Linked DNA regions of Homo sapiens. The protein of the gene in region 1 interacts with the protein of each later gene in a pairwise test. Each region holds a gene or a part of one and is shown on either strand. Other genes may lie near its edges. The genes, in order: ZSCAN26, PDE4DIP, CDR2L and KRTAP4-12.

What was found.
Region 2: the proteins of ZSCAN26 (region 1) and PDE4DIP interact in binary tests that used the Homo sapiens proteins (3 or more experiments, as listed by UniProt).
Region 3: the proteins of ZSCAN26 (region 1) and CDR2L interact in binary tests that used the Homo sapiens proteins (3 or more experiments, as listed by UniProt).
Region 4: the proteins of ZSCAN26 (region 1) and KRTAP4-12 interact in binary tests that used the Homo sapiens proteins (3 or more experiments, as listed by UniProt).

What each region holds. Positions count from the first base shown.
Region 1 is NC_000006.12:28,272,211-28,279,931, forward strand, and holds the end of ZSCAN26 (zinc finger and SCAN domain-containing protein 26), read left to right. Parts: coding exon 1-129; exon of another isoform or gene 130-459; coding exon 460-577; intron 578-3,920; coding exon of another isoform or gene 3,921-3,984; coding exon 3,985-4,886; 3' UTR 4,887-5,994; downstream 5,995-7,721. UniProt on the Homo sapiens protein: May be involved in transcriptional regulation.
Region 2 is NC_000001.11:148,845,312-148,853,032, forward strand, and holds part of PDE4DIP (myomegalin), read left to right. Parts: intron 1-7,721. UniProt on the Homo sapiens protein: Functions as an anchor sequestering components of the cAMP-dependent pathway to Golgi and/or centrosomes.
Region 3 is NC_000017.11:74,999,647-75,007,367, forward strand, and holds the end of CDR2L (cerebellar degeneration-related protein 2-like), read left to right. Parts: intron 1-1,694; coding exon 1,695-1,843; intron 1,844-2,417; coding exon 2,418-2,582; intron 2,583-3,536; coding exon 3,537-4,428; 3' UTR 4,429-6,154; downstream 6,155-7,721.
Region 4 is NC_000017.11:41,119,761-41,126,817, reverse strand, and holds KRTAP4-12 (keratin-associated protein 4-12), read left to right. Parts: upstream 1-2,635; 5' UTR 2,636-2,695; coding exon 2,696-3,301; 3' UTR 3,302-3,727; downstream 3,728-7,057. UniProt on the Homo sapiens protein: In the hair cortex, hair keratin intermediate filaments are embedded in an interfilamentous matrix, consisting of hair keratin-associated proteins (KRTAP), which are essential for the formation of a rigid and resistant hair shaft through their extensive disulfide bond cross-linking with abundant cysteine residues of hair keratins.

The DNA.
Region 1 (7,721 bases):
CAGTTTCTGATCATCCTGCCTAAGGAGCTCCAGGCCCGGGTGCAGGAGCATCACCCAGAGAGCAGGGAGGACGTGGTTGTTGTTCTGGAGGATTTGCAGCTGGATCTTGGAGAAACAGGACAACAGGTGGTAAGGGTCAGATGTGCTCTTTTTCAGGAATGCAGGAATTGAGATCTCTGGCCAGACAGGTGGACATGGGCTCATCAGCGGAAGGAGAATTACTAAGCTTTGATTCAGTTTTTTTCCAGTCTAGCTGTTAATTTCCTTAGGTCTTACCTCAACCTTACCTGGCCCTTGCTTGGAGAAAACTGAATGTGCACCAGATTCCCCATCTTCTTTTCTTTGCCCCTCTGGGGTTTCTCTTTCTTCTCTTTTTTAACACCTAGGTGTTTTACTGAACAGCAGTTTCCTAAACCCACATATATCTAATTATGCCTCCATATACCTAATTGTCCCTAGGACCCAGACCAGCCAAAGAAACAAAAAATACTTGTGGAGGAGATGGCCCCTCTGAAAGGAGTACAGGAACAGCAGGTTCGGCATGAGTGTGAAGTTACAAAGCCTGAGAAAGAGAAGGGTAAGAATTGGATTGCATCTTCTGTGTGTGAGACGTGGTGGACTGTGCCTTTCCCTCTGAGGTTGTGCTTAGCACCCTTGTATTTTGTTTTTTGCTTTTGTTTTGAGTCAGGTTTACTGAAGCATAATTTATATGTAGTAAAATTCACTCTTTTTAGATGTACAGGTCAATGAGTTTTCACAAATGCGAAATAATTGTGGTCTAATCAGGACCACTATCAAGAGATAAGAGATATCTATCACCCCAAATATTTTAGCTGAACAAAATAGCAAGAAAAGGGTACAAAGGGAACCTGGACCTTCACCTTGCTCTTCTTCCTCTTACTGTAGGGGTGAATAAAAAAAGCAGTGCCAGGCCAGCTACTTGGGAAGCTAAGGGAGAAGGATCACTTGAGCCCAGTTCAAGGCTGCAGTGAGCAATGATTGTTGCACTGCACTTCAGTCTGGGCAACATCTCTTAAAAAAGCAAATAGTGGCCAGGCATGGTGGCTCATGCCTGTAAACCCAACACTTTGGGGGGCCAAGGTGGGTAGGTATACGAGGTCAGGAGTTCAAGACCAGCCTGGCCAAGATGGTGAAACACTGTCTCTACTAAAAATACAAAAATTAGCCAGGTTTGGTGGCGGGTGCCTGTAATCCCAGCTACTCGGGAGGCTGAGGCAGAGAACTGCTTGAATCCAGGAGGCTGAGATTGCAGTGAGCTGAGATCACGCCACTACACTTCAGCCTGGGCGACACAGCAAGACTCTGTCTCAAAAAACAAACAAACAAAAAAAAAAACAAGTACTGCTAGTTTCTTAATCAAGGCAAAGAAAGCCACATGCTTCATTACTCATTTTTTAACATTTCCTTCAAATTATTGTAAATGGCCACTATCTTTCATTTCTAAACGTCACCTGGATTTTTTTTTTTTTTTGGTTCTATACTTTCTTTTTTGTTGTTTTTCTATTGAGACAGGGTCTTGCTCTGTCTTCAGGCTGGAGTACAATGGTGCAGTCATAGCTCACTACAGCCTTGACCTTCCAGGCTCAAGTGATCCTCCCACCTCAGCCTCCCAAGTATCTGGGACTACCGGTGTGTGTGCCACCACACCTGGCTTTTTATTATTATTATTTGTAGAGACAGGGTCTCCCTCTGTTGCCCTGGCTGGTCTCGAACTCCTGGTCTTAAGCATTTCTCCCATTTGGGCCTCTCACAGTGCTGGCATTATAGGTGCAAGCCACTCGCCCAGCCTCCTTTATTTTCTTTGTCACTGAAATTCTTCTTCCTAATTTTTGCTCCTTACATTTTTTCATTTCTTCTTTTTTTTTTCTGTCATAGAACTAATTACATTATATTGCAGTTTCTAGTTTGCTTCTCTTTTTCTCTTGCCAGACTAAAAGGGAAGGGGTTTTGTTTTGTTTTCTGAGTCAGCTACAGTCCCTGGCCTAGTGTAGACCCTCAATAAATGTCTGTTTGATGAATGACTGGTTTTATATGTAAAATCATGCTTTACATGCTACCTATTCCTCTGTTCAATTTCCAAGTCAGCTTCAAATTACCTTTCTTCTGGGAGCATCCTGAATAAAGTAGCTGAAAGAAAGGGGCCTACCTTTTCTCAATAGCCTTGCAGAAATGAATTAGCCTTGCAGAAATGATTACCATGTAATCAGTGATGGGTGTATAGTTTAAATACAAAAAGTAAATGTGGCTGCTGTAATCCCACTACTTTGGGAAGCCAGAGTGGGAGGATTGCTTGAAGCCAGATGTTTGAGACCAGCCTGGGCAACATAGTGAAACCCTGTCCTCTACAAAAAATAAATAAATAGCTAGGCGTGGTGGCATGCAGCTGTAGTTCTAGCCACTTGGGAGGCTGAGGCAAGAGGATTGCTTGAGCCCAGGAGTTCAAGACTGCAGTGAGCTATGTGATTGCACCACTGTACTCCAGCGTTGGCAACAGAGCAAGACCATGTCTCAAAAAAAGTGAATGTAATGTCAGTAGACTCTTGAAAATGTCCCTTACCCTCTGGATCTGTTAAAAATGTTATTTTATATTCAAAGTTCAGGTTGTTTTTTGGTTTCATCCTCTCTTGCTTTTTTAAAGTTGTATATGTGATTATGTCATTACTGGAAGAGTCTTATTCCTTTCCCTTAATCTCTCACTCTTGCCCCCTGCCCCTGTGTAGGACTGAATACTTCATTCTGTTGTAGAGGGTCTTTGTACACAGTACATTATTACATTATTTAATTTATTCACTCCCCACCTGTGACCTTCCTTTCTCTGATGTCTCCTTACTAATTCCTTCACTTTCACTTTTCCTTTCAGCTGTCATCCACTCTTTCCTTTTTACTTATCTGCTGAATTAACTTGCTCACACTGATTAACCCTCTTTTGTTTGTTATTAGTGCTGCTTAGAGTCTTTCTTCTATTTTCTCCATCCAGCTTTCCTTTTACTCTCTCATTCTGACTTTGCATCCCCAGTCATGCTCCTAGCCTTTGAAGAGTTATCCTTAGCTACAAGAAAAACTGGTAAATAAAAATATAAAATGAAACAAAACAAAAACTTCACATTCTTCTCACCCGTCTGCTTGTGTATCTGAGCTTAAGTTTTCTCTATTTTCATTTAATTTCACCCTTAGGACACAGGCCATTTATTTAGTAAACATTTGTTTAATGTCTGTTATGTACCAGGCTCTGTGCTAGAGAAAACAAAGTCTGCTCTGCATGTGCTTACAGTCTCTTGGGGCATTGTGCATCAGGGGTGCAGGGAGCGACAGACATGAATAAATTATCATAGCGTTGAGATTAAAGCTCTGTTGAACCACACAGGAGAGCAGTTACTGCTGTCCAAGGAGATTAGGAAAGGCGAAGGCATTTTTGTGAACTTCATGTTATTGTCAAGGTCTTATAGTACATTATTCTTTCTTTATGGATGAGGACACAGAGCCCAGATGATTTACCTTACTTTTTTAAGATTACACAGTTAGTGATAAAATTGGGCACCACATCTACATTTCTTCATTTTCAGTTAAAATGTCGTCCCTTTCTTATGGGCCCTGGGGGCCTCAATTAACCTAGCTTTTTTTATTTTCCATGTGACAAGTTATCTTCAAGACTGTACAGCCATGCCCTTTAAGACAGTTTATTTGCTTGCTTGCTAGCTTCTCTGTGTGTGGTATCCCATGATAAAATTTAAACTATTTAAAATAAGTCACCTCCCACCAGAATTCCCCATCTTTCCCCAAAGACAGTCACAGTTAACAATGTCTTGTGTACCATTCTGTAACTATTTTACGCAATCACAAGCATCCACAATGTTTTTACTTTGCACACATGGCTTCATTATATTTTTTTTTCCTTTTAGTTGCAGATTCCTTTCCCCAAGCATCAAAAGACAAGTAATTGGTGGTATATATTTAATATTGCAGGTGAGGAGACAAGGATTGAGAATGGGAAGCTTATTGTAGTAACAGACTCTTGTGGAAGAGTAGAGTCATCTGGGAAAATATCTGAACCCATGGAGGCTCATAATGAGGGCTCTAACTTGGAAAGGCATCAGGCCAAGCCCAAAGAGAAGATTGAGTATAAATGCTCAGAACGTGAGCAGAGATTCATCCAGCACTTGGACCTGATTGAACATGCGAGTACACACACGGGAAAGAAACTCTGCGAGTCTGATGTGTGTCAGAGTTCCAGTCTTACAGGACATAAGAAAGTCCTCTCTAGAGAGAAAGGTCATCAGTGTCATGAGTGTGGGAAAGCCTTTCAGAGGAGTTCACACCTCGTCAGACATCAGAAAATCCATCTTGGTGAGAAGCCTTATCAGTGCAATGAGTGTGGCAAAGTCTTTAGCCAGAATGCAGGCCTTTTGGAACATCTCAGAATTCATACTGGAGAGAAACCTTATCTATGTATCCATTGTGGAAAAAATTTTAGGCGCAGCTCTCACCTTAATCGACATCAGAGAATTCACAGTCAGGAGGAGCCCTGTGAGTGCAAGGAGTGTGGAAAAACCTTTAGTCAGGCCTTACTCCTCACCCACCATCAGAGAATCCATAGTCACTCCAAAAGCCATCAATGTAACGAGTGTGGAAAAGCTTTCAGTTTGACCTCAGACCTTATTCGACACCACAGAATTCATACTGGAGAAAAACCTTTCAAGTGTAACATATGCCAGAAAGCCTTCCGACTAAACTCACACCTTGCTCAGCATGTAAGAATCCACAATGAAGAAAAACCCTATCAGTGTAGTGAATGTGGAGAAGCCTTCAGGCAAAGGTCAGGTCTTTTTCAACATCAGAGATATCACCACAAAGACAAACTGGCTTGATGAGGTGTTCTCTCCTTGTAGAACATCAGAGAAGGCACATTGACTAGCAAACAGCACTTTAGGAAAAGTCACCGTAGCCCACTGTGGCATCAGAAAATTCTTGGGGGCTGAGTTGGAGGCTCCCTGCCTCTATTCTCTCTCCTTTGCTTTCCTTGAAGTCAGCTTTGGACCACAATAATTTCACTGTAGATGATATGCTAGGATCAAAGTTAAACAGCATTCTTCACTGCAGGACATCTCAGAGCATGTAACATAACTGCATGATTATATACTCTAAGCAATAGAGAGCTTCATGACTGAGTAAGAGTTTTGAAGTCAGCAGTGAATCAAGTGCCCACAGATTTGCAGGCTTAAGCAGAACAAGGGAAGATTGATATTTTTGGATATGCTATAGCAGCTTTCTCCTATGAAATAAAACTGATGATGTTTGGAAGTATACTACTCTCAAAGGTGTCTTTAAAGTACAGGTTAATGGTGAACATTTTCCCCCAGTGGCTTCACCTCATTCCTCCCACTGGCCTTACCCCTTCCTTCCCCAGTGGAAGCATTTTCAAAAGCAAAGATAATTTTCGCTGGTGAACTTCAGAACTTGCCTTCAGGGTTAGCTTCATGTAATTTTACCATTTCCCATCCCCATTCCCCACCACATTATGTCAAGATTCAAGTTATAAATTAACGTTTTACTTAGACTTTGAAAGAGATTTCATGAGTAATTTGAATGAACCTTGCTGAATTAATCTGAATAGCAACTGTCTGACTTGATAACTCCAGTGCCAGTATAGTGGCTGCTGCATAGACACTATTCAGTAAATGTCTGATGAAAGAAATTGGACTTTTTCCCTTTAATACTGATGATGCAATTTTGAAATGTTGCTTGTTCTGGAATACTTCGGAAGTTAAACAATAAAGTCAGCTTGGAGAGGAGATCATGATCTTTATACTGTGAATAGCAGAATGTCACAGATGAAGAATATTAAAATTAGGGGCGTCCACTCCAAAACATATCACCAGAGTGACAACTTCAGCCCTCAGCCTCTGCAATCCATATATATCCTGGTCTTGGGAGTCCATAGAATACTGTTTCCTTCTAATAAAGGTTTCAAACAAATCCCTGCAGATTTATTTAAAGTGTTTGTGGAAGATAATTTTCCATATAAGCTGTGCAGTATTCTATGGTATATGTCCCCATTGTTCATCATTTACGTCATTTACAGTTTGATCACCATAAACAATTTTTCAGTGAACATCCTTGTATATACAACTTTGCCTACTTACAGAATTTTTTTCTTTGTTCAGTTCCCATAATGAGAATCAATGAGGCAGAAGGTAGGCATATTTTCTAAGGCTTTTGATGCATTTTCCAGAATGCCCTCCAGAAAAGTTACACTAATTTGTACACCCTGTTAGCAGCCTATGATAATGCCCAATTTTCTATACCCACGTAAACTGGGAATTATTCTTTTGAATATTTGACAATCTGATGTGTACAAAATGGTTTGCTTTTTTTAATAAACCATTTTTTAGAGCAGTTTTAAGTTCTCAGCAAAATTGAGAGGAAGATACAAAGATTTCTCATATACCCACTGCTCCCATTCATGTATAGCCTCCCCTATTATCAACATCCCCTCCCAGGGTGACATTTGTTACAATTGATGAACCTACATTGACATATTATCACCCAAAGACCATAGTTTACATTAGGGTTCACTCTTGGTATTGTTCATTTTATGGGTCTGGACAAATACATAATATCGTGTCCACCATTATAGTTTCACTGCCCTAAAAATCCTCTGTGCCTTACCTATTATTCATCCCTCCCTTTTTCCAGCCCCTAGCAACCACTGACCTTTCTACAGTCTTTATAGTTTTGCCTTTTCCAGGATGTCATGTATACAGGTTGAGTACAGCTAATCTGAAAACCCAAAATCCAAAATGCATTAAAATGTGAAACTTCAGCACCAACATGATGCTACAAGTGAAAAATTTCATACCTGACCTCGTGACAGGTCATAGACAAAATCCAGTCAATACTTTGTTTCGGCTGGGTGCAGTGGCTCAAGCCTGTAATCCCAGCACTTTGGGAGGCCAAGGTGGGTGGATCACCTGAGGTCAGGCGTTTGAGACCAGCCTGGCCAACATGGCGAAACCCCGTCTTTGCTAAAAATATAAAAATTAGCCGGGTGTGGTAGCATGCACCTGTAGTTCCAGCTACTTGGGAGGCTGAGGCACGAGAATCGCTTGAACCCAGGAGGCGGAGGTTGTGGTGAGCCAACATTGTGCCACTGCACTCCAGTCTGGGCAACAGAGCAAGACTCAATCTCAAAAAAAAAGACTATGTTTCATGCACGAAAGTATTTAAACTGTATAAAATTAGCTCTATGTGAGTAAGGTATATATGAAACAAATGAATTTCATGTTTAGACTTGGGCCTCATCCCTAAGATATTTCATAATGTATGTATATATTCCAAAATCCGAAATTGGAAACACTTCTGGCCCCAAGCATTTCAGATAAGGGATACTCAACTTGTAGTTGAAATCATACAGTATGTAGCTTTTCAGACAGGATTCTTTCACTTTGTAATATGCTTTTAAATTTTCTCAATATCTTTTCATGCCTTGATAGCTCATTTCTTTTTTTTTTCTTTTTTTTTTTTGACATAAGGTCTCACTCTGTTGGCCAGGCTGGAGTGCTGTGGTACGATCTTGGCTCACTACAACCTTTGCTTCCTGGGTTTAAGCAATTCTCCAGCCTCAGCCTTCTGAGTAGCTGGGACCACAGGCGCACACCACCACGGCCGGCTAATTTTTTGTATTTTTAGTAGAGATGGGGTTT
Region 2 (7,721 bases), on another chromosome or scaffold:
AAGGAAAGAGATCAGGGCACCACACTGCTCAGGCTTTATTGAGGCCAGGCAACAGTTGGCTTTTAGGTCAGATTTTGGAGATGGCCTGTGAAACTGCGTTTTCTTCCAGTCCTTCCCCCAGACACACTTTAAAATGAAGCCCCATTCAAGGAAAGGGTAAGGATAAGAGACCATGTATTGAGACAAAGACTTCGTTTCTGTTTTTTAGTGGGTGGGAGGGTAGGGAGACTATTCCAGCGGTGTCTCTATAACAGATACGCTTCCATCTGTGGGATTTAGCTTTGGAGAATTGGGGTGGGGCCAAATGAGCGCTCTGACTCCTGAGAGAGTGAAGACGGTACAAACACAGAAGGTAAATTTGGGGCTTATGCAAAAGACTTGGGTGCTTTTAGTTGATTGCTAAGCTCAACAGGAGTGAATGGTATAATGTGAATATTAAAGAAGGAGCAAATTGAAGCTTAGGGTTTGTTGACAGAAGAAGTAGGCTGTCTAGATTCTGTCTAGATCAAAAGTGATGATTTTACTTTTGGCTCCTTTCTGCTCCTCTTGGGCCTCTCCGAGAGGGCTGTGCTTAGTTCTGGGCATCATTAGATAAAATAAGTACAATCAAGAGACAGGAGGGAACTCAAAGCCATGCCTTGAGGGATGGCCAAAGGAAGGACCTGGGACTCCTGAGTCCGGAGAAATGACGACTGGGAGTGGGGAGGATGTGGTAGCTTCCTTCAAATTTCCGAAGAGCTATTGGTGGTAGAGGGATTGAATCACATTAGAATCTCTTAGGAGGACAGAACAACCGATGCAAGCGAGTTGTTGGGAGGCGAGTTATGGCTCAGTGTAAAGAAAAAGCTTTCTGGCCAGGTGCAGTGGCTCATGCCTGTAATCCCAGCACTTTGGGAGGCTGAGGCAGGCGGATCACCTGAGGTCGGGAGTTCGAGACCAGCCTGACCAACATGGAGAAACCCCATCTCTACTAAAATACAAAATTAGCCGGGCGTGGTCGCACGTGCCTGTAATCCCAGCTACTCCGGAGGCTGAGGCAGGAGAATCGCTTGAACCCGGGAGGAGAAGTTTGTGGTGAGCCGAGATCAAGCCATTGCACTCCAGCCTGGGCAACAAAAGCGAAACTCCGCCTCAAAAAAAAAAAAAAAAAAAAAAAAAAAAAAGACCAGGCGAGGTGGCTCACGCCTGTAATTGCAGTACTTTGGGAGGCTGAGGGGGGCGGATTACGAGGTCAGGAGATTGAGACCATCCTGGCTAACACAGTGAAGCCCCGTCTCTACTAAAAACACAAAAAAAATTAGCCGGGCGTGGTGGCGGGCGCCTGTAGTACCAGCTACTTGGGAGGCTGAGGTAGGAGAATGGCGTGAACCCGGGAAGCGGAGCTTGCAGTGAGCCGAGATCGCGCCACTGCACTCCAGCCTGGGCGACAGAGCGAGACTCCGTCTCAAAAAAAAATTAAAAAAAAGCTTTCTAACAAGTTAGCTGCCTGGGCAGTATGGGCAGTAAAGAGATTGTTGACCCTGGAGTTACTCAGGCAAAGGCTAGATGACCACTTGATGGTGATGGGAGTGAGTGTATCAGGGCCTTTTGCTCTCTGCCAGTGTTTTTCACACTTGAAGAAAAAAGTATTATTTATTAAGTTTTAAAAATTTTATATTTACATGTAACAATTTCAGACAAATTCAGAAATGATTTGGAAAAATCGCAAATTATATATTTACAGTCCAATTAATTTGACAAACTGAGTATACTCATGGGATGGGCATTCAGATAGAGAAAGGGAACATTACCAGCATCCCTGAAGCCCTCCTGATGACTTCAAGGATAATCATTATCCTAATTTTTAACACCATAGAATAATTTTGCCTAGTTTTGAACTTTATGTAAATGAAATTATACACCATGTACTCTTTCGTACGTGGCTCCTTTCACTCAATCTTTTGCTTTTGGAGTTCTATACTGTTATATGGTACTGTAGTCCATTTATTCTTGCTTTTAAATAGGCTTCTATAGTGTATAAATATATCAAATTTATTTGTCCATTCTATTCTTAATAGGCACTTGGGCAATTTCCAGTTTGGAGCTATTATAAACAGTGTTGCTATGAACATTTCTGTACAGGTCTTTTGATGAACATATGTACACATTTCTGTTGAGTAAATAAGTAGAAGTATGATTTCTGCGTAATAGGAAATGCATGTTCAGATTTAGTAAATACTGCCAGATTGTTTTTTTTTAAACAGATTACAAAAGAGATTTCTAAAGCGGGTATCCAGGCCAGGCGCGGTGGCTCACGCCTGTAATCCCAGCACTTTGGGAGGCCGAGGCGGGCGGATCACGGGGTCAGGAGATCGAGATAGTCCTGGCTAACACGGTGAAACCCCGTCTCTACTAAAAATACAAAAAATTAGCCCGGCGTGGTTGCAGGCACCTGTAGTCCCAGCTACTCGGGAGGCTGAGGCAGGAGAATGGCCTGAACCTGGGAGGCGGAGCTTGCAGTGAGCCGAGATCGCACCACTGCACTCCAGCCTGGGTGACAGAGCGAGCCTACATCTCAAAAAAAAAAAAAAAAAAAAAAAAAAAAAAAAAAAAAAAAAAAAAAAAGAGGGTATCCAAAGGGAAGAACATAGTGAAAAGGTGCTCCACATCACTAGTTATCAGGGAAATGCAAATTAGAACCACAACACCATGCTGCTATATACATATCAGAATGGCTGAAATTAAAAAGATAGAAAGTAGCAAATGCTGGCAAGGTGGACCATTCAGAATGTTCACATATTTTTTAACCACTACTCACAATAAGTAATATATTTACATTGCCACCAAGTACTCTTACATATGTAACAAAGTTTCTTGTAACAATACTTAACTTTACTATGTGTTTTGCACTCTGATATTTGCTATTCTATTCTTTTTCTTTAAAAATAAAATGTTGGCTCTGATTCACTGAATTTATTTCTCCACCTAATGGGTCACAGTTGGAAAAATCCTATAATCACAGATCATGGCTGACATCTCAGATCCTTCCTAACTCACAGATCAGATTAGTTCATAAACACTTATTAAAAATTTGAGGGCCGGATGAAATGGCTCACGCCTGTAGTCTCAACAGTTTGAGAGGCCAAGGCAGGTGGATGACTTGAGGTCAGAAGTTCGAGACCAGTCTGGCCAACGTGCTGAAACCCCATCTCTACTAAAAATACAAAAATTAGCCGGGTGTGGTGCCTGCACCTGTAGTCCCAGCTACTTAGGAGCCTGAGGCAGGAGAATCCCTTGAACCCGGGAGGCGGATGTTGCAGTGAGCTGAGATTATACCACTGCACTCCAGCCTGGGTGACACAGTGAGACTCTGTCTCAAAAATAAATAAATAAATAAATAAATTTTGAGAGCCCCAAACAGGTCAGACGCTGTGCTAGATGCTAAGAATAAAACAATGAATGCAATGAATGAGACTGGGTCTCTGCCTTTAATGGCTTTACATTGTCATCATCTATAATTTTAATAGAGAGACACTAAGGCAGAGATACGCAGTGGCTGCTCTGGGTACACAGTGGATAGGGGATTGAAAGAATAAAAATTAACCATAATTGATAACATTTATTAAGCTTTAATTGTGTGCTAATCTCTTTGAATACTTAATTCACCTAATCCTTACAACCCTATGAAGTAAATGTTATACTCATTTTTAAGAAAAGGAAATTGAGCTTCAGAAAGATTAAATAATTTTCCCAGAGTGACACACACAGCCGAGAAAGAAATATAGCCTTGAACTGTTTCATTCCAAAATCTATGCTTTTACTTTATTTTAGTAGAGTTTTGTAGGTGACTCAGTTTATGACTTGTTTCTGAAGCTAGCTACTTGCTCAATTTACCCACAAAGGACAAGGTGCTTGGTATTTTAGTTCTCAAAGTTAGATATGCTCTACTCCCAGCTACACATCATCTGCCCCTCTACAGCTCAATGGAAAGGTTCCCCCTACCCGCTGGGGCCGTTACCTGACTGTTGCCAAACTCACTGGTTAAATCATTTGGACAGAGCATGGTTGGCTCTGGAATAGCAAATTTTCTATGAATATACTGGCATTACAAAAAGCTGATTTGGTCACCAGCTTTCAGATTTATTTCCGTGAACAGGGCGAGAGTTGTCAAAAGAATAAGCTCATGGAGCTGATGAAGAACTTGATGATGAGGGGAGGTTTTCTCACCCGGCAGGTCCAGTGTCAACCAGGCAAACAGCTTCTACTGCTCTAAATTTTTAGCATCCACCTGTCTGGACTAGCAACTCCCTACACCTTCTGCTTTAAAGATTATCAGTACTTCAGGATTACTGTTTGTATTAATTTCCTGTTGCTGGTGTAACAAATCACCACAAACTTTTTTTTTTTTTTTTGAGATGGAGTCTCACTCTGTTGCCCAGGCTAGCGTGCAGTGGTGCAATCTTGGCTCACTGCAACCTCCGCCTCTCAGGTTCAAGGGATTCTCCTGCCTCAGCCTCCCAAGTAGCTGGGATTACAGGCACATGGCACCACACTCAGCTAATTTTTGTATTTTTAGTAGAGACGGGGTTTCACCATGTTGGCCTGGCTGGTCTCAAACTCCTGACCTCAAGTGATCCACCCGCCTTGGCCTCCCAAAGTGCTGGGATTACAGGTGTGAGCCACTGCGCCCAGCCAAATCACCACAAACTTAGTGGCTTAAAACAATACAAATGTATTGCCTTAAAGTTCTGGAGGTCAGAAGTCTGAAATTTGGTCTTCTAGGTTAAAACCAAGGTATCAGCAGGACTGTGCTCCTTCTAGAGGCTCTAAAGGAGAATTTGTTCCTTGCCCTTCATGGCTTCGAGAGACTGCCCACATTCTGGGTTCATAGCCCCTTCCAGCAATGCCATCACTGGCCTCTGCTTCTATCATCACATCTCCTTTGATCATTCTGACCCTCCAGTGTCCCTCTTACTAGGACCCTTATGATTACATTGGACCCAACCAGATAATCCAGGATAATCTCCTCATCTCAAAATCTTTAGTCACATCTGCAAAGCCCTCTCTTGCTATGGAAAGTGGCATATACACAGGATCTGGGGATTAGGAATGTGGACATTCTTATAAGGCCATTATTTTAGCCTACCACATCGTTCAATGCTGAAAAAGTCATTACTAATTATCTTCCCCATTTCAGTGGAAATGTTCTGGTTTCTAGCATATGAGAAAGCTGAGTAAACATCAGGTGAATCATATATGAACCTTATACAACTTCCCCGAACACATAACTCAAGAAAAGAGTGAACTAGAAATGTTTAAGGGCAAACTATAAGACTGAAGGTTAAAAAAGGAAAGCAAATTAGTCTGTTTTGTTTTGTTTTCTATTCCCCTGCAATTTGATTTAATAAAATGCAAGCATTAATTGCATTTGCTTGCTGTATCTGTGAAAATTTGGAAAATGGAAGTAACATTCAAGAAAATTAATGATCTGGTTTCAAAATTTAAGAATTTTGACTTTGTTTCTTTTCTGGAGTACAGCCTTCAAGCAAGACAAGGTGTCCATTTACCACAGCTATATTGTACTTAACAGATCTCCATTGATAGCTTATTTGAATTTGTTTTTCTCTATATAAATGTTTAGCCTAGAGGAATCAGGGACATTTATTTTTCTCTGAATTTATGGTGAGTTAGTAGAGAGTCCTGTTTACAAAGACATAGTTACAACCAGAGATATATGGCCACTGAGGTTAAAGTGGTTAAATGATTTGCTGGCATTCACACAACTAGTATGTGTTGTATGAAGGCCTAGTTAATTCCAGTACCTTTACTTATTATGGTGCTGGTGCTTTGCATGTAACACTTCATATTAGGAAAATGCTTGTTTTCAGAATTCTATTATTGAAACATCTTTGGAAGTTGAATTTCCTGTTTAATATTCAGCACTGCTAGCAACTAATTATCTGAATTTTAAGAAGGAAATTCTGCCTTGGCAACTCCAGTCTACTTTTAAATGGGCCTATACTTGGATTTCGGCTTGGGGAATTTGCCAGAATCAATGCTTTCACTCCTACTTGCTTATTTTCCACACACTAGATCAGTCTGGACCTGACTCCCCCAACCCCCATTTTTTCAGCTACATGCTAAGACTATGTTTAAAATACCTAAAGACTGGGAAGGGGTTGTTTTTGTCTCAGAAAGGATAAGTAACACCTCATGGTGCCGTCCCCATCCTGGGAGGCTCGCCTGACTGTGGCTGAGGGATCATATTTTCAAGGCTAAGTGGAGCATCCATCCATTCAGTGGATGCCCCAGGACACTACTTCTATTGAAATCTACCCCATTTTATAAATAAAATTCCAAACTGGGCTCAGAACATTCCACAAGCTGTCTCTGGCAAAAATTCAAATAGCATTTAAAGTTAGAAGAAAGTCCAGAATACAAGAGATGTCATATTGACCCAAGGTGGCTCTATGTGATTCTATTTTAAAACACTCAAATGCACTGAGGACTTGTTTTCCTCTGCCTCAGAGCATTTTCTGAGTTCTGTGGCCAGCAAGACAAGCATGATCTGAATTTCTTTTTTCTGAACGCTTATGGCTAAAGTGCTAAATTAGTCATAGACTATTTATAATAAATTGTATAATAATACTGTTTTATTTTCATAGCACTTTCACAGCCTGTGATTCATCTTTCCTTAATCTGTCTCATTATCTTCAGTCCTTTTCTGCTTGTTACATTCCACAGAAACGTCTTTCTTTCTTGTCTTTTCCAAGGCCAGTGAGGGAAGAGGTAACTTGCAACTAGTGTCTTCTTATCATGGTCATGGTGGAAAGGGTGGAAAGAAGCAATAACTTCTGACATATAGAAAGCATTCACTGGCCAGGCACAGTGGCTCTCGCCTGTAATCCCAGCACTTTGGGAGGCCAAGGCAGGAGGATCACTTGAGGTCAGGAGTTCGAGACCAGCCTGGCCAACATGTTGAAACCCCATCTCTACTAAAGATACAAAAATTAGTGGGCATGGTGGGGGGTGCCTGTAATCCCAGCTAATCGGGAGACCGAGGAATGAGAATTGCTTGAACCCAGGAAGTGGAGGTTGCAGTGAGCCGAGATCACACCACTGCACTCCAGCCTGGGTGACAGAGCAAGACTTTGTCGGAAAAAAAAAAAAAAAAAAAAAAAAAAAAAAAACTAGAAAGCATTGACTCACAAAGAAAATTGAATAATTTCTAGCATTTCACACAATTTAAGAATGAATTTATTTTCCACTTCATAATGTGGTATATTATCATTCATAATGTAGAATAACATGCTGTGGATTTACAGTGTCTTTTAAATCATTACGCCTAACCCAAAGGATGTAGACTTCCAATTTTTAACTATTATAAATAATACTTGATAAATGTCTAGGTGCATAAAGCATCTTCTTCCACAGCATTATTTTTTGAATGAGAGATGTTCAGAAGTAGAATAACTATGTCAACATTTCCAGTTCTTGAAAGTACATTGCAAATTACTTAAAGTTATAGTCCCATAAGAAAGATATTGCATTCAATTTAAATATCTTTTTCAAGACCTGAATCCCTGTATTGTAAAGGGGGAAACTGAGGCACACTGACATTAAAGTGGCATAACCTAGGTGAATCAATAGCAACATTTCCAACTTTTACCCTTCTCTAGGGTAAAATGCTTCACTGTTGCTGTTAATCTCTATTACTATCCTGAAACGTTTCCTGAAATGAT
Region 3 (7,721 bases), on another chromosome or scaffold:
CCTCGAGGGCCCCTTGGCCTGTGTGTGCCTTTATGCAACTTAGAATAAGGTGCCAGCTTATCGGACACAGCCTTAGCCCAATAGCCTGGTACAGTTCACAACTGTGCTATCCTGTACAAGGATAGCACAGCTATCTCAGGCAGCCCTATTGCACAACTAGATTTTTTTTTTTTTTAAATAGACACCAAGTCTCACCATGTTGCCCAGGCTGGTCTCTAACTCCTGAGCTCAAGTGATCCTCCCACCTCAGCGTCCTAAAGTGCTAGGATTACAGGCATGAGCCACCAGGCCCAGCCTGAACCACCATTTTTAAGCCCCACTCAGCTGAAGACAAATACATCAAAGCAAACTTGTCCTTAGAAGGGGAGAAGGGGCTGCTGGCTCATGCTTGTAATCCCAGCACTTTGGGAGGCCAAGGTGGGTGAAATACTTGAGCCCAGGCAACATGGCGAAACCTTGTCTCTATAAAAAATACAAAAATTAGCTGGCTATGGTGGCATAAGCCTGTGGTCCCAGCTACTCAAGAGGATGAAGTGAGAGGATTGCTTGAGCCTGGAGGTTGAGGCTGCAGTGAGCCGTGATTGTGCCACTGCACTCCAGCCTAGGCAACAGAGCGAGACCCTGTCTTAAAAATAAATAAATAAAATAAATAAGATTTATTTCTTTTTTGAAATGGAGTCTCACTCTGTCACCCAGGCTGGAGTGCAGTGGCGCGATCTGGGCTCACTGCAGCTCTGCCTCCCGGGTTCACGCCATTCTCCTGCCTCAGCCTCCTGAGTAGCTGGGACTACAGGCGCCCACCACCGCACCCGGTTAATTTTTTTTGTATTTTTAGTAGAGACGAGGTTTCACTGTGTTAGCCAGGATGGTCTCCATCTCCTGACCTCGTGATCTGCCCGCCTCAGCCTCCCAAAGTGCTGAGATTACAGGTGTGAGCCATCACGCCGGGCATAAAAAAGATTTTAGAAGTTAAAAAAAAAAAAAAAGGCCGGGCACAGTGGCTCACACCTGTAATCCTAGCACTTTGAGAGGCCAAGGCGGGCAGATCACGAGGTCAGGAGATCGAGACCATCCTGGCTAACACGGTGAAACCCCATCTCTACTAAAAATGCAAAAAATTAGCCAGGCATGGTGGTGGGCACCAGTAGTCCCAGCTACTCAGGAGGCTGAGGCAGGAGAATGGTTGGCGTGAACCCAAGAGGTGGAGCTTGCAGTGAGCCGATGTCGCGCCACTGCACTCCAGCCTGGGCGAGAGAGCAAGACTCCGTCTCAAAAAAAATAAATTAATTAATTTAAAAAAAAAAGAGGCTGGCGTGGTGGTGCATGCCTATAATCCCAGCCCTTTGGGAGGCAGAGGTAGGCAGATCACTTGAGGTCAGGAGTTCAAGACCAACCTGGCCAATATAGTGAAACCCTGTCTCTACTAAAAATACCAAAATTAGCCAGGCATGGTGGCAGGCACCTATAGTTCCAGCTACTCAGGAGGCTGAAGCATGAAAATCACTTGAACCCAGGAGGCAGAGGTTGCAGTAAGCCGAAATCATGCCACTGCACTTCAGCCTGGGCAACACAGTGAGACTCTGTATCAAAAGAAAAGAAAAGAAAAAAGACAAAAAAAGAAGTAGGAGGGTCTAGGCAGAGACATTTGCCCCTGCCCAATTCTAAAAAGTTACTCAATGTCCTTCCACCCCCAGTACCTAACCAAGCAGCTGGACACGCTGCGGCACGTGAACGAGCAGCACGCCAAAGTCTATGAGCAGCTGGACCTGACAGCCCGGGACCTGGAGCTGACCAACCACAGGCTGGTGCTGGAGAGTAAGGCTGCCCAGCAGAAGATCCATGGGTGAGGGCCCGGCTGAGGGCTGGGGGGCGGGCGAGGGAGAGCCCCAGGGCTGAGTGTACACAGGGGCCCATGGACTGATGGGTGTGACTTGTGCACGTCTCCCTAGGAACCGGGGATGGGAGTGAGCTTGTCCTTGTCGATTTTGTGTGGTTTAACATTCAGGCCGCAACCTTGCTTTAAGCACCAACTATGCACCAGGCTCTTCTTTAGACACTGGGGATGCAACGATGGGGAAACAAAGACATTGTCCTGCCCTCTAATACCTCACAGCCTGGAAGAGAAGGCAGGCATGTAAATATTTTATGGCAGTGCAGGACAATAAGTGATAGAGGAGTGACAAGGAACTGAGGTGGCACAGAGGAGAAGCGATCAGCTCGCCTGAGAGGTACAAAAGAAGGGCGGGTCCTTGGGCATGCATAGAATTCCCCATCCTACCTCAGGACCAGACAGCGGCTCAAGGGTACCTGTCTGCCTCCTACCCAACGTCCCTCCATCTTCAGGGAGCCAGGGCTGCCGTGAGGCAAACTGGCCCCATCCCCTTAAAGTCCCTGTGTGTCCACCACCCCGCCCCCAGGCTGACGGAGACCATTGAGCGCCTCCAGGCTCAGGTGGAGGAGCTGCAGGCCCAGGTGGAGCAACTGAGAGGCCTGGAACAGCTGCGAGTGCTCCGGGAGAAGCGGGAACGCAGGCGTACCATCCACACCTTCCCCTGCCTCAAGGAGCTGTGCACCAGCCCCCGGTAGGTGAGAGCACTGCTTGGTGTCTCTGGGATTGCCAGCCATGGGAGGAAGGAGAGGCAGCAGGCAGCAGGGTGCAGTTGGTGCATCATCCAGGCCATCAGAGAGACTGGTCCTGTTGCTAATGACAGTCACAGCAGCTGGCGTTTACTGAGCCCTGGCTGTGTGCTGCCACTATGCTGATATAATTCTTATTGCAACACTGTTGGGGGTGTTTTATTATGCCTACTCTCCAGATGATAAAACTGAAGCCCAGAGGTTGTGTGTCTTATCCAAGGTCACCTGTTTAGTAAGAGGCTCAGCCAGCATGCTAACCCAGGAGGGGTAACCCACTGTGCTTTTCAGTTCCCATTAAATCTAACACTAGACAACCACTTAATAATGGAAAAATACATGTGTCATATGTAGTGGGTGTTTCAATAAGGGTCCTGGCAGGAAACAGTCTCTTACACAGAGTAATGGAGAAGTTAAATGAAGAAGAGGTGTGGGCAGGGGGTAGGGAAACCACAGGGACACTATAGTGCCCCAGGGTTGCAGCAGAGAGGAGCTGCCACCAGCCCTAGGCCTCAAAGCGCAAGGGGGAAGGGAGGTTACCGGCACCTGGAAGGTATGGAGAAGGCTGCCTGGTCACCATTAACCATGGAGAGCCCAAAGAAGACACACCCCACGGCCTCTGCTCCCCCCTCGGACCTCTAGCCAGTGCCTCTCATGGGCCAAGCTCAGGAGAGAACCAGGCAACCTGACAGAGGCGGTCCGTAGTGGTCAGCCTCCGGGGGCAGAGAGCAGGGGGAGAAGGGTGGAGGAGGGTGGAGAGCCAACGGAGAGGGGCAAACAATTTCAGCCCAGAGAACAAGAGAGATGTAAGCGCCCTGGCTGGGCTGCTCGGCCTTGGCCGTGCCCGTGACCACTGCCCTCTCCTCCGCCCCCACCCCGCTGCGACTCTCACTACCCGCCAGGTGCAAGGATGCTTTCCGCCTACACAGTTCCTCCCTGGAGCTGGGCCCGCGGCCCCTGGAGCAGGAGAACGAGCGGCTGCAGACCCTGGTGGGGGCGCTGCGCTCCCAGGTGAGCCAGGAGCGGCAGCGCAAGGAGCGGGCGGAGCGCGAGTACACCGCGGTGCTGCAGGAGTACTCGGAGCTGGAGCGCCAGCTGTGCGAGATGGAGGCCTGTCGCCTGCGTGTGCAGGAGCTGGAGGCCGAGCTGCTGGAGCTGCAGCAGATGAAGCAGGCCAAGACCTACCTACTGGGTCCGGACGACCACCTGGCCGAGGCCCTGCTCGCACCCCTCACGCAGGCCCCTGAGGCCGACGATCCCCAGCCCGGCCGCGGGGACGACTTGGGCGCCCAGGACGGGGTCTCCTCACCGGCAGCCTCTCCAGGCCACGTGGTGCGCAAGAGCTGCAGCGACACTGCGCTCAACGCCATCGTGGCCAAAGACCCAGCCAGCCGGCACGCGGGCAACCTCACACTGCACGCCAACAGCGTGCGCAAGCGGGGCATGTCCATCCTGCGGGAGGTGGACGAGCAGTACCACGCGCTGCTGGAGAAGTACGAGGAGCTGCTGAGCAAGTGCCGGCAGCACGGGGCCGGAGTGCGGCACGCCGGCGTGCAGACCTCGCGCCCCATCTCCCGGGACAGCTCGTGGAGGGACCTGCGCGGGGGTGAGGAGGGCCAGGGTGAGGTCAAGGCAGGAGAGAAGAGCCTGAGCCAGCACGTGGAGGCCGTGGACAAGCGGCTGGAACAGAGCCAGCCCGAGTACAAGGCGCTCTTCAAAGAGATCTTCTCCAGGATCCAGAAGACCAAGGCTGACATCAACGCCACCAAAGTCAAGACGCACAGCAGCAAGTGACCCTTCTCCGGCCTGCAGCCTCCCCCAGGGTGGAAGCCGTGGGGTCCCTCAGGCCTGGGCGGTGCAGCTTCCAGAGAGCGAGCGCCCTTTAGCGGCCTGCCACCACAGCACGCGGCCTCCTGATCCGGAAGCACGCAGCATGTTCCCTGCTGAGCGGAGGCAGCCCACCTGTCCTGCCTCCCAGGAGCCCTTGGCCACCTCGCGCCAGCCCAAAGGCGCAGCTCTGAGTTCAAAGCCAAATGTCCCCACTACCCCAGGGATCCCCCAGCTCCCCCAGCCCCTGGCTTCCTGACCCTGCGCCTCACCCTCAGACTGGTGACCAGGCTTCTGAAAGCCATTCTGGATCAGTTGGCTTTTTTTTTTTTTTTGGTTAAGTTTGTTTTTTCTAAGAGATTTGCAATGCAAGGTCTCCTTGACCCCTTGCCACAACTGGAAACACTTGAAAGGGGACCCCAGGGCCAGCTGTTTCAGGGGTTTCCTGGACCACCCACTGCTTCTCCCCAACCCTGATGCGCTGACATTCCCTTAGCACCAGCTGTCCCACCTCCAGGGTCCTGACCAGGTCAGAGATGTCCCCTGCCATGCAGAGCAGGAAGCCTCAGCTGGGCCTGGAGTGTCCCTGCTCCAGCCCTGCCAGGGACAGGTTTCTCCCTGGATACTCTTGGCCCACCGCAGATCTGTAGCCAGTCAGAGGAGGAGGAGAAGGAGCCCCTCAGCAGAGTGGTGCAGTTTCGCTCAGAGCTTGTCTCCTTGGCTTCCAACCCCAGAAATGCCTGCTGGGCCTTAAGCTTTCCAGGGGCCGGGGCAGTGGGGAGCCCCCATCCCTTCACACCGCCACCAACTAACCAAGCTTGGCCTCTGACTCCCGTCTCTGTGCTTGCCCCCATCTCAGGGACCATGATGTCTCAGTCACTCCACGCTCCCCACAGGCCAACCCTGGCACAGGTCATGTCTGCAGCCCCCAGAATGTTCTGGACATGCACCACCAGCCGGTGGTCCCAATGTCCACCCCTGCCTCCCCTTCACTGGGGACTGGGGTTTTCGCCCCATGCTGCATCGTGTTGTATTGGGATGGGGCTGAGGAACATGCTCCCTCCCTCCCTCCCATAAAATGCCTGCTCTTCACCTCCCACCTTTGTGGGGGGCTTTTGAGGACCCAGCTGCGTCAGGAGTTTTGCTTCAAGATGTCAGAAAGTCAAGTTCAGCTAAGAGACACCCAGGTCCCCAGCTTGCCCTGAGCAGCCCTTCAGGGCTTCTGGTTCCTTCTGCCGCCCTTCCTGAGACCTTAGAAACCAGAAGAGCCATACAGTCAGTGGAAGGCGGGGGGGCCCTGGCCTCTGCACCGGGATCCCAGTGGGAACCTTCATGCCTTATTTATTTCTAATGGGTAAAGGGGTTTTCTTACCAAGCATCCCTGACCTCCTGGAGACACCACCTGCTTTCCGGGCGGCACTGTGATGGGAGCTGGTGGCGACTGAGTCCTTCTGTACGTGCAACTGGGAAACTTTTGTCCTTTGAGGCTAGGCAGCTCCCTGCCCTCCGTGTGTGTCTGTTATCTGGGGGAGAGGAGTGTGGAAGGGTTGGGGGAAGAGCTCCAGCCTGTCTGCTCCCCAGCTCTGTAGTGGCAGACCAGCGTCACCTTTGAAGTATACGTGAGAGAAATATATTTACAAATGCTTTATTCTCTTCTTTAATAAAAAATGCACCAGTATTCTAAAAGCAAAAATGGCCCATCTCTGTGCATCTCACACACCTGCCTCGCGTCACGCCCAGCCATGGGAGAGGGTAACATCCTGTGTCCCACTTCCCTGAGACTGAACAGCTCCAAATAGCAGGCTCTGGCAGAAGTTTCTATATTTATTGAGGGCCAGCTAGGGATACATGGTGAACAAGCCAGCAGGGCCCCTCTTCCCTTGGAGTTTATATTCTGGTGTGGGGAGATCCACCCAAAATAAACAAACAAAAGATACGGCATGATGGAAAAATCGGGGCAAGAGGGTAGTGCTACCTCAGCTAGAGCACGTGGGCCCAACAGGGTGAACCAAGTTAAAAAAAAAAAAAAAATCGGCCTGGCGCGGTGGCTCATGCCTGTAATCCCAGCCCTTTGGAAGGCCAAAGTGGATTGCTAGAGCCCAGAAGTTTGAGACCAGCCTGGGCAACATAGCAAGACCCCCTTTCTACAAAACATTTTTTGAAAATTAGCAGAGCATGGTGGTGTGCATTTGTAGTCCCAGCTACTCAGGAGGCTGAGGTGGGAGGATCACGAGCCTGGGAGGTCAAAGCTGAAGTGAACTATGATCATACCACTGCACTCCAGCCTGGGCAACAGAGCGAGACCCTGTCTCAAAAAATCATATCTAGATATATAAATACAGCACATGAAGAGATATACAGTGTTACTAAAATTCCTGGGGGAGCAATTCGGAGAAAATGTCTAAATAGGCTCTTTGAGGTAGGAAGGGGGAGCGATCATGGAAAAAAAAGATTGAGAAATGCTAAGCGAGGGTGGTCAGGGCACCTCTGGAGAGGTGATGATGAAGCTGAAACCAGAAGGCTGAGGAGGAACCAACGGGAAGATAAGTGGAGGCCCAGGGAGCAGCTGGGGCAGTGGGGGGTGGCCAGAACAGAGGGTGGAGGCCAGGCTCCTAAGAGCCCGGAAGGTTCAGGGGAGCTCGGGCCTCCTAAGTGCAATGAGACGCCACGGCAGGAAGTCCAGGGCCAGACTGATGCCCTGAAGGACCATGAGGGATGGGGAAGTTGACCTGCCCTTGGTGAGCCACCCATTGATGACACAGGACAGTCACAGGAATGACAAGAGGGCCATCTCCTGGTGTTTTTCAAGCTGATAAACCCCATATCTCTCTTCCATATACATGAAAAACCTCACCACTCCCATTCTTCCTCAGATATCTGTCTCCTCCCCATGTTATACAGAGGACGGTACATAGAGGGGTTCATCTTCTGGAGGGGTCCCCATCACCAAGATTACACCAGCCTCCCTCTTGTTCTGGAAGTGCCGTCAATCCGTTGGGTTTTCTGTTTTCCTCAATGCAAAATGATAGGCCGGGCGAGGTGGCTCATGCCTGTAATCCCAGCACTTTGGGGGGCTGAGGCAGGCAGATCATGTGACATCAAGAGTTCGAGACCAGCCTGGCCAACATGGTAAAACCCTGTCTCTACTAAAAATACAAAAATCCTAGCTACTTAGGAGGTTGAGGTGGGAGGATCACTTGAACCGGGAAGAAGAGGTTGCAGTGAGCCGAGATCGCACCACTGCCCTCCAACCTGGGTGA
Region 4 (7,057 bases), on another chromosome or scaffold:
CTTTCCTGTTTTCTCATCTCCTCTCTCTCTATTCTTCTGTCGTTTTTTAAAGTGTAAGCAAATATACTTTCAATATTTATATCCTGGATTTTTAAAACATTGTTGCAGAACAATTGTACACATTTTCCTCCACTGCTTTATCGTCTCCTAACAATATCTACTGGAGATTAATTTATAGTAGCCTATAGAGACACTCCTTATTCCTTTTGACAGCTGCATAGTACTCCATCATGGGAAGGCACCACAGTTTATACACCAGTACCCTATTGAAGGACACCTGGGTTGTATCCAGTGTTGTTGTAGTTTTTAGTTTTTTTCCCAAATAGAACTCTTATGAATCGTCTTGTGCAATATCTTTCATATATTTACCTGAGTATCTTTGAGATATTTTATGGAATTGGGATAGCTGAGTCAAAGAATAATGCTGCTAGTTATTGCCAAACCTTCACAAGACAAATACGAGCATGCCTATTTTCACATCATCTCACTTCCAGAGAATGCTATCAGATTTTGAATTTTTGATAATCTAACAGGTGAGAAGTATCGTACCATATTATTTCATTTCTCTTACTATGCATGAGATTGAGTATATTTATATGGTGGTAAAATATTTGCATTTTATTTTCCCATTAGGCTGTTGGTCTGTTTTCTATCTATTTCCAGAAGCCTTTTTTTCTTCTTCTTCTGTCACCCAGGCTGGAGTGCAGTGGTGCAATCTTGGCTCACTGCAACCTCCGCCTCCTGGGCTCAGGCAATCCTCCCACCTTAGCTTCCTGAGTAGCTGGGACCACAGACCACAGATGCATGCCACCTCGCCATTTTTTTTTTTTTTTTTGCTTTTTTTTGTTTTTTTGGTAGAGATGGGGTTTTGCCAAGTTAACCAAGTTGGTCTCAAATTCCTAACCTCAAACAATCCGCCTGCCTTGGCATCCCAAAGTGCTGGGATTACAGGTGTGAGCCACCGTGTCCAGTCTCAGAAGTCTTTTATATACTATTAACCCTTTGTCCGTGATATTAATTGCTAGTTCTTTTTTTATTATTTAGTCATTTGTGTTTTTACTTTGTTTATGATGGTTTCTTACCATACATTTTTTTTTTTTAAATTTTACTTTAAGTTTTGGGATACATGTGCAGAACATGCAGGTCTGTTACATAGTTATACATATGCCATGATGGTTTGCTGCACCTATCAATCCGTCATCTGGGTTTTAAGCCCGACATGCATCAGGTATTTGTCCTAATGCTCTCCCTCCCCTTGTCCCTCACCCCCGACAGGCTCCAGTGTGTGATGTTCCCCTCCCTGTGTCCATGTGATCTCATTGTTCAACTCCCACTTAGGAGTGAGAACATACCTTGCATCTTTTTAATTATAAATAATTGTTTTTAAATATCAGGAGGGATTTAATTGCAAAATGTTCATGCGCAAAATGTTCCTTGAACACTCTAGGAGAGACGCCCTTTCCCTGTTACAGACTGTGTGACTTCAATCTATCTGGGCCTCAAGTACCTTGGATGTAAAGAATTTAGAAAAATTGTGTCTACATAGCAGAATCCTTGTGAAGTATAAACAAGATAACAATTATAGAGGACTCAGAAAATTCCTGACACATAGTAAGCACTCAAAAAATTATAACTATTAGTATTGTTTCATCTTTCATTGGAAGTGTACAGATTAAATACATAATTGTTATTTTGTTCACTAATCACACCATTCTCTAAATAGTTGCTAAATTCTTTCCTATACATGTTTCTTATTTGTCTTGTTTAAGCTTCTGTAGGACAGAAATTAAACTTGATCCTTTGTTTCTTTTCTCCATGTATCAAGCAAAATATCTCCAACATACATTGTGAGAAAAAGCAGCTTTCGAGTATGAGAAAATCTACTTTCAATAACACTTCAGTTAAACACATTCAGTGGGTATCTTGACTTACCAACAAAATAGAACAAAAATGTTCCTTATGATCCCCATCTCTGAAGAACATGCCAACAATAATTTATAAAGGGACCTATCATGCCAATGTATTTTTACTTGTAAAGCAATGAATCATTGCATTATATCTGTTTCAAGCTAAATAGAGTCAATAACATGAAACAGGAATTTCAGTGGGATCTTTTATATCTCACTGACCAGCCACAAAATTCAAAGGAATCACAGTGTTCCTTATTATACACAAGTTACCTCCTATCACCCCCCAAAGATGAATCTTTCATCACATTTTCCTACCAGCATTCTATGTAATTTATTTTTAACCTCTTTGAGAGCAGAGGAGATTTAGTCATCATAAAATCTATTTTCAACTTATTATCCAGGAGTCAAATAAATAAAGAATTAACTTATGAAATCCAATCAAACAATGTCATGTAATGGGTCTACACATCAGAAGACACATCAGATGAAGGAAGGAGAATGAGAGCTGATTCACTTGGCTTAACCAAATTGGATAGCTCAGAATACAACAGGAAAAGGAAATGTTGCCTTTTCTATTTATAGAAATATTTACCAGATAAGGACAACTATCTAATTTACTAAAAAACAACTGATTCTCTATTAGTAATGTGCAAACCACAAGATTATTCACATTGTCATAGTGGTTCTCAGCAGGGTATAAAAAGCAAAAGAGAGAACAAGGAGAGATCAAACTCAGAACACTCACTCTCCTGGAAACCCACCGAGAACCTCCACCCTCTGACACCATGGTCAACTCCTGTTGTGGCTCTGTGTGCTCTGACCAGGGCTGTGGCCTGGAGAACTGCTGCCGCCCCAGCTGCTGCCAGACCACCTGCTGCAGGACCACCTGCTGCCGCCCCAGCTGCTGTGTGTCCAGCTGCTGCAGGCCCCAGTGCTGCCAGTCTGTGTGCTGTCAGCCCACCTGCTGCCGCCCCAGCTGCTGTCAGACCACCTGCTGTAGGACCACCTGCTGCCGCCCCAGCTGCTGTGTGTCCAGCTGCTGCAGACCCCAGTGCTGCCAGTCTGTGTGCTGCCAGCCCACCTGCTGCCGCCCCAGCTGCTGTCAGACCACCTGCTGCAGGACCACTTGCTGCCGCCCCAGCTGCTGTGTGTCCAGCTGCTGCAGACCCCAGTGCTGCCAGTCTGTGTGCTGCCAGCCCACCTGCTGCCGCCCCAGCTGCTGCATCTCCAGCAGCTGCTGCCCCTCTTGCTGTGAATCCAGCTGCTGCCGCCCCTGCTGCTGCCTGCGTCCAGTCTGTGGCCGAGTCTCCTGCCACACCACTTGCTATCGCCCAACCTGTGTCATCTCCACCTGCCCCCGCCCCTTGTGCTGTGCCTCCTCTTGCTGCTAAATCTCTGCTGTGAACACACCACTTCCTTATTACGTCCTTTCCTACAGATGAAGGCTCTCATTGCAAACATGCGGACTGTTCAAGAGAATTGATCTGGGTCCCATAAGCAAACCTCATCCTTAGAAATTCTGTATTTGCATTCTACCTTTTGTCCAAACTCCCTTCCTTCCAAAGGAATTCATTGACAATCTCCTAATAAATTGACAAATTGTCCTCCAACATCCTCCCACCTCTTTGACTTCAGGACATTTATTCATCATGCCTAAGGAATTTGAAGATTGCCTCCATCATTTGTAGGGCCACAGATCTTAAAGCCTCCAACCTTGAAGTCCAGTGAAGTCTCTCTCTTAAAGTCTTTTGCAAACATTTTTGTACCTTGTTATTTCCATGTACCAAAATAAACCTCTATTCTATTGGCACTGAAAATTGAATATGATTCTTATTCTCTTTTTAAAAAGGGTTTTATATTTAGGTCCTGGGTGATTACATTTAACTACACCTGTAGGGCTCACAGCACAGATTAGTCAACCTTCTAACAGAGGTCAACTGACATCGATCACTGCCTAGTTTTTTTCTAGAAAAGTCTTTTCAGGCTTAGGCAAATCAATTAGTCATTTTGTATTCTTTAGACAAAAAGAGTGAAGCTGAAGTCATGAAATATCCATGAATATAACAACAGGGGAAACGTTTTGAAAGATTGATCACAACTCATCATCTTTTAAAAAATAATTTCAACTTTTATTTTAGAATCAAAGAGTACATATTCGTATTTGTTACATGTTGTGTGATGCTGAGGTTTGGGCTACAAATGATTCTGTCACCAGGTACTGAGCAGTGGGTCATTTTTAGCCCTTCCTCTCTCCCTCTCTCCCCCCTTTTTGGAGTCCCCAATTGTTCTCATCTTTGTGTCCATGTGTATCCAATGTTTAGCTCCCATTTGTAAGTGACAACATGCAATATTTGGTTTTCTGTTCCTGGAAAAATTTGCTTAAGATAATGTCCTCCAGCCACATCCATGTTGCTGCAAAGGACAAAATTTCATTCTTTTTTATGGCTGTGTAGTATTCCATGGTGTGAAAATGTCACATGTTCTTTATCCAATGCACTGTTGATGGGCACCTAGACTGATTCCATGTCTTTACTATTGTGCACAGAGCTGTGATCTTTTAAAACACTGTATTTCAATTTCTTTTTTTTTCCAGTAAAAGCAGCTATTAGGTGGTTTAGCAAAGTCCATGTATTTTCTACTGAGTCATGTGTAATGAATCCTCAACACAAACACAGTGGATCTCCTTCATTCTGACTGGCAGAGTTTCAATGGGGAGTTCATGCTGCCATGTAGAGAGGGCCACCTTCACGGCCAGGCAGGTGATGGAAATGAAGGAAGCAGGCCTAGTGAAAACTCACAGGTATGCTGGAGACTGATTTTTTTTCTTTTCGTCCAAAGTCATGCCCTTTTTTTAGGATGAAACTATAAAGACCCACATTTCTCCCCAACTAGGGATGCCTCTAATGGGTCATCTCATCTCCAGAACTCCCTATAGGTTCATCTGAGACTTCCACGGAGATTGCCCTGCAGTTTGATTTATCCCAGTGTCAAACTTGATCTTTCTCTCACTTTCCCTTCCTTTCCCTTCCCTTCCCTTCCCTTCCCTTCCCTTCCCTTCCCTTCCCTTCCCTTCCCTTCCCTTTCCCTCCCCTTCCCCTTCCCTTTCCCTTTCCCCTCCCCTCCCTTTCCCCTCCCCTGCCCTCCCCAGTGTTAATCCCAAGAGCATGCTTCAATAAACCTCCTGCATATTGCTCTCCATCTCAGTGACTGCTTCCTGGGGAACCCAGCCTGTCCCCCAAAACAATTTGAAATTCATGATAGCTAATTTGAGAGCTCAAATGACTGACTGAAATGTACTTTTAATATTTTAGTTCCTGAAAGAAATAAGAATGTAAACATAATAGCAGAAAATATATTTAACAGAATATGTAGAAAAATTATGAATTTTATATAAATCACATTTATTATTTTCTAAGGATGTTTAGATCATTTATACACAAATATATGCTCTTTAAACATTTAGACAATACAAAAGAATGTGACAATGTGAACAAAAGTAAGTTTCCCATCATGATCTTTGCCAATCCCATTCAATACCTAATGTTGCAAATTGAGATACATCCTCATTAAATGCATGCATAAAACATGTATGTATTTATTTGAAAACTTGGCTTTCGTTGCACATCTCTTGTTCTGACATTTATTCAAACATTATTTTATGTCCTTCCGGAAATGTTAACATTTTCCTTCACAAAGGCTTGGCAGATTTATTTACATATTTTTCTATTTACTCTTGAGAACTGTGAGTACATGCTTCTTTTTTTTTTTATTATACTTTAAGTTCTAGGGTACATGTGCACAACGTGCAGGTTTGTTACATATGTATACATGTGCCATGTTGGTGTGCTGCACCCATTAACTCGTCATTTACATTAGGTATTTCTCCTAATGCTATCCCTCCTCCCTCCCCCCACCCCACGACAGGCCCCAGTGTGTGATTTTTCTCCATTAAATTTTAGAGAGAATTATTGCTAGTGTATAAAAAGTCTATGGATTAGTATAAGTTCATATTTTATCTGATCTCGCGATTCACACTAATACCCAGCTGACTCTACAGGATTTTACAGGTGTGCAATCATGGTGGCCAAGTGCCTCCAGCCTCAGGCTTGTCCCTGGGGTTCGTCCCCAGCTGCCCACAGTGGGGGCCTTACCATTAACACAAACACTGTTGGGATTTTCTACCTTTCCTGTCTTACTTTCACCGTTTCCTCACTTGTGCTTCCTGGGATCATCCCCCAAATAAATTATGTGCACTCAGGTCTTTTTCTCAAGGTTTGCATTGGGTAGAATTTAAGCTAAGACAACAGATTATCAGCAAACATTTTTGGCTGACTGATACGAAACAGGAAATAATAGTTATTTCAATCAACAAGAGTAAAACGAGGAAGTCAGGAGGTGAAGGAGAACCAGTGCTACCATCTGGCGTTTACTTCCTTCCTGTCTTTTTACTGTGTGAATATAGGCATGCACGTTCAACACTGTATTCTTGGTTATCTATAAACAAGTCTCATTCTATAAATTGAATCTTGACTTCCGCAGTTTCCACGTATGTTATTTATCGGGTGACATGTTACCTATCACACAAATGAGTTTAGTCTTCCTGAAATGAAATTATGATTTCTTTGTTTGGGATGTTTTCCTCCCTTTTATCCAGAAGTCAAAAGATATATACATTTTTTAAAGGACCTTACATGCCTCTATGTCATCAAAAAAACCTTCATTCACTCAACAAACATTTACCACCAGTGTTCTCTGTGCTGAGTATCATGGTAACGAGAATAAATGCCATAGCGCAAGCCTTCAGGGTATTTGCATTGCACGTGGTGGAAAGACAGAAGTAAATGACTATGATACAGGAGAATGTATAAATTATGAGCACAAGGCAGGAAATCATGATACATGAATGGGGTAGCTTAGCAGGAAAGATATTATTGAGGAGGAAATATTTTAACTGGGTCTTGACACATGAGTAGGAGTTTGCAGAGTGGACAAAAAAAGATGAAACATTCCAAGAAGATGAAGCAGTTTCAGCAAGCTTAGCAAATTGTATTCTTTACGGCTTTCTTGGCTACACTAAGACATATTAGGCTTACTTTCTCTTTAACCTTGGACAAGTTGTTTGTTTGTTTGTTTTAAGTTTTTAATGC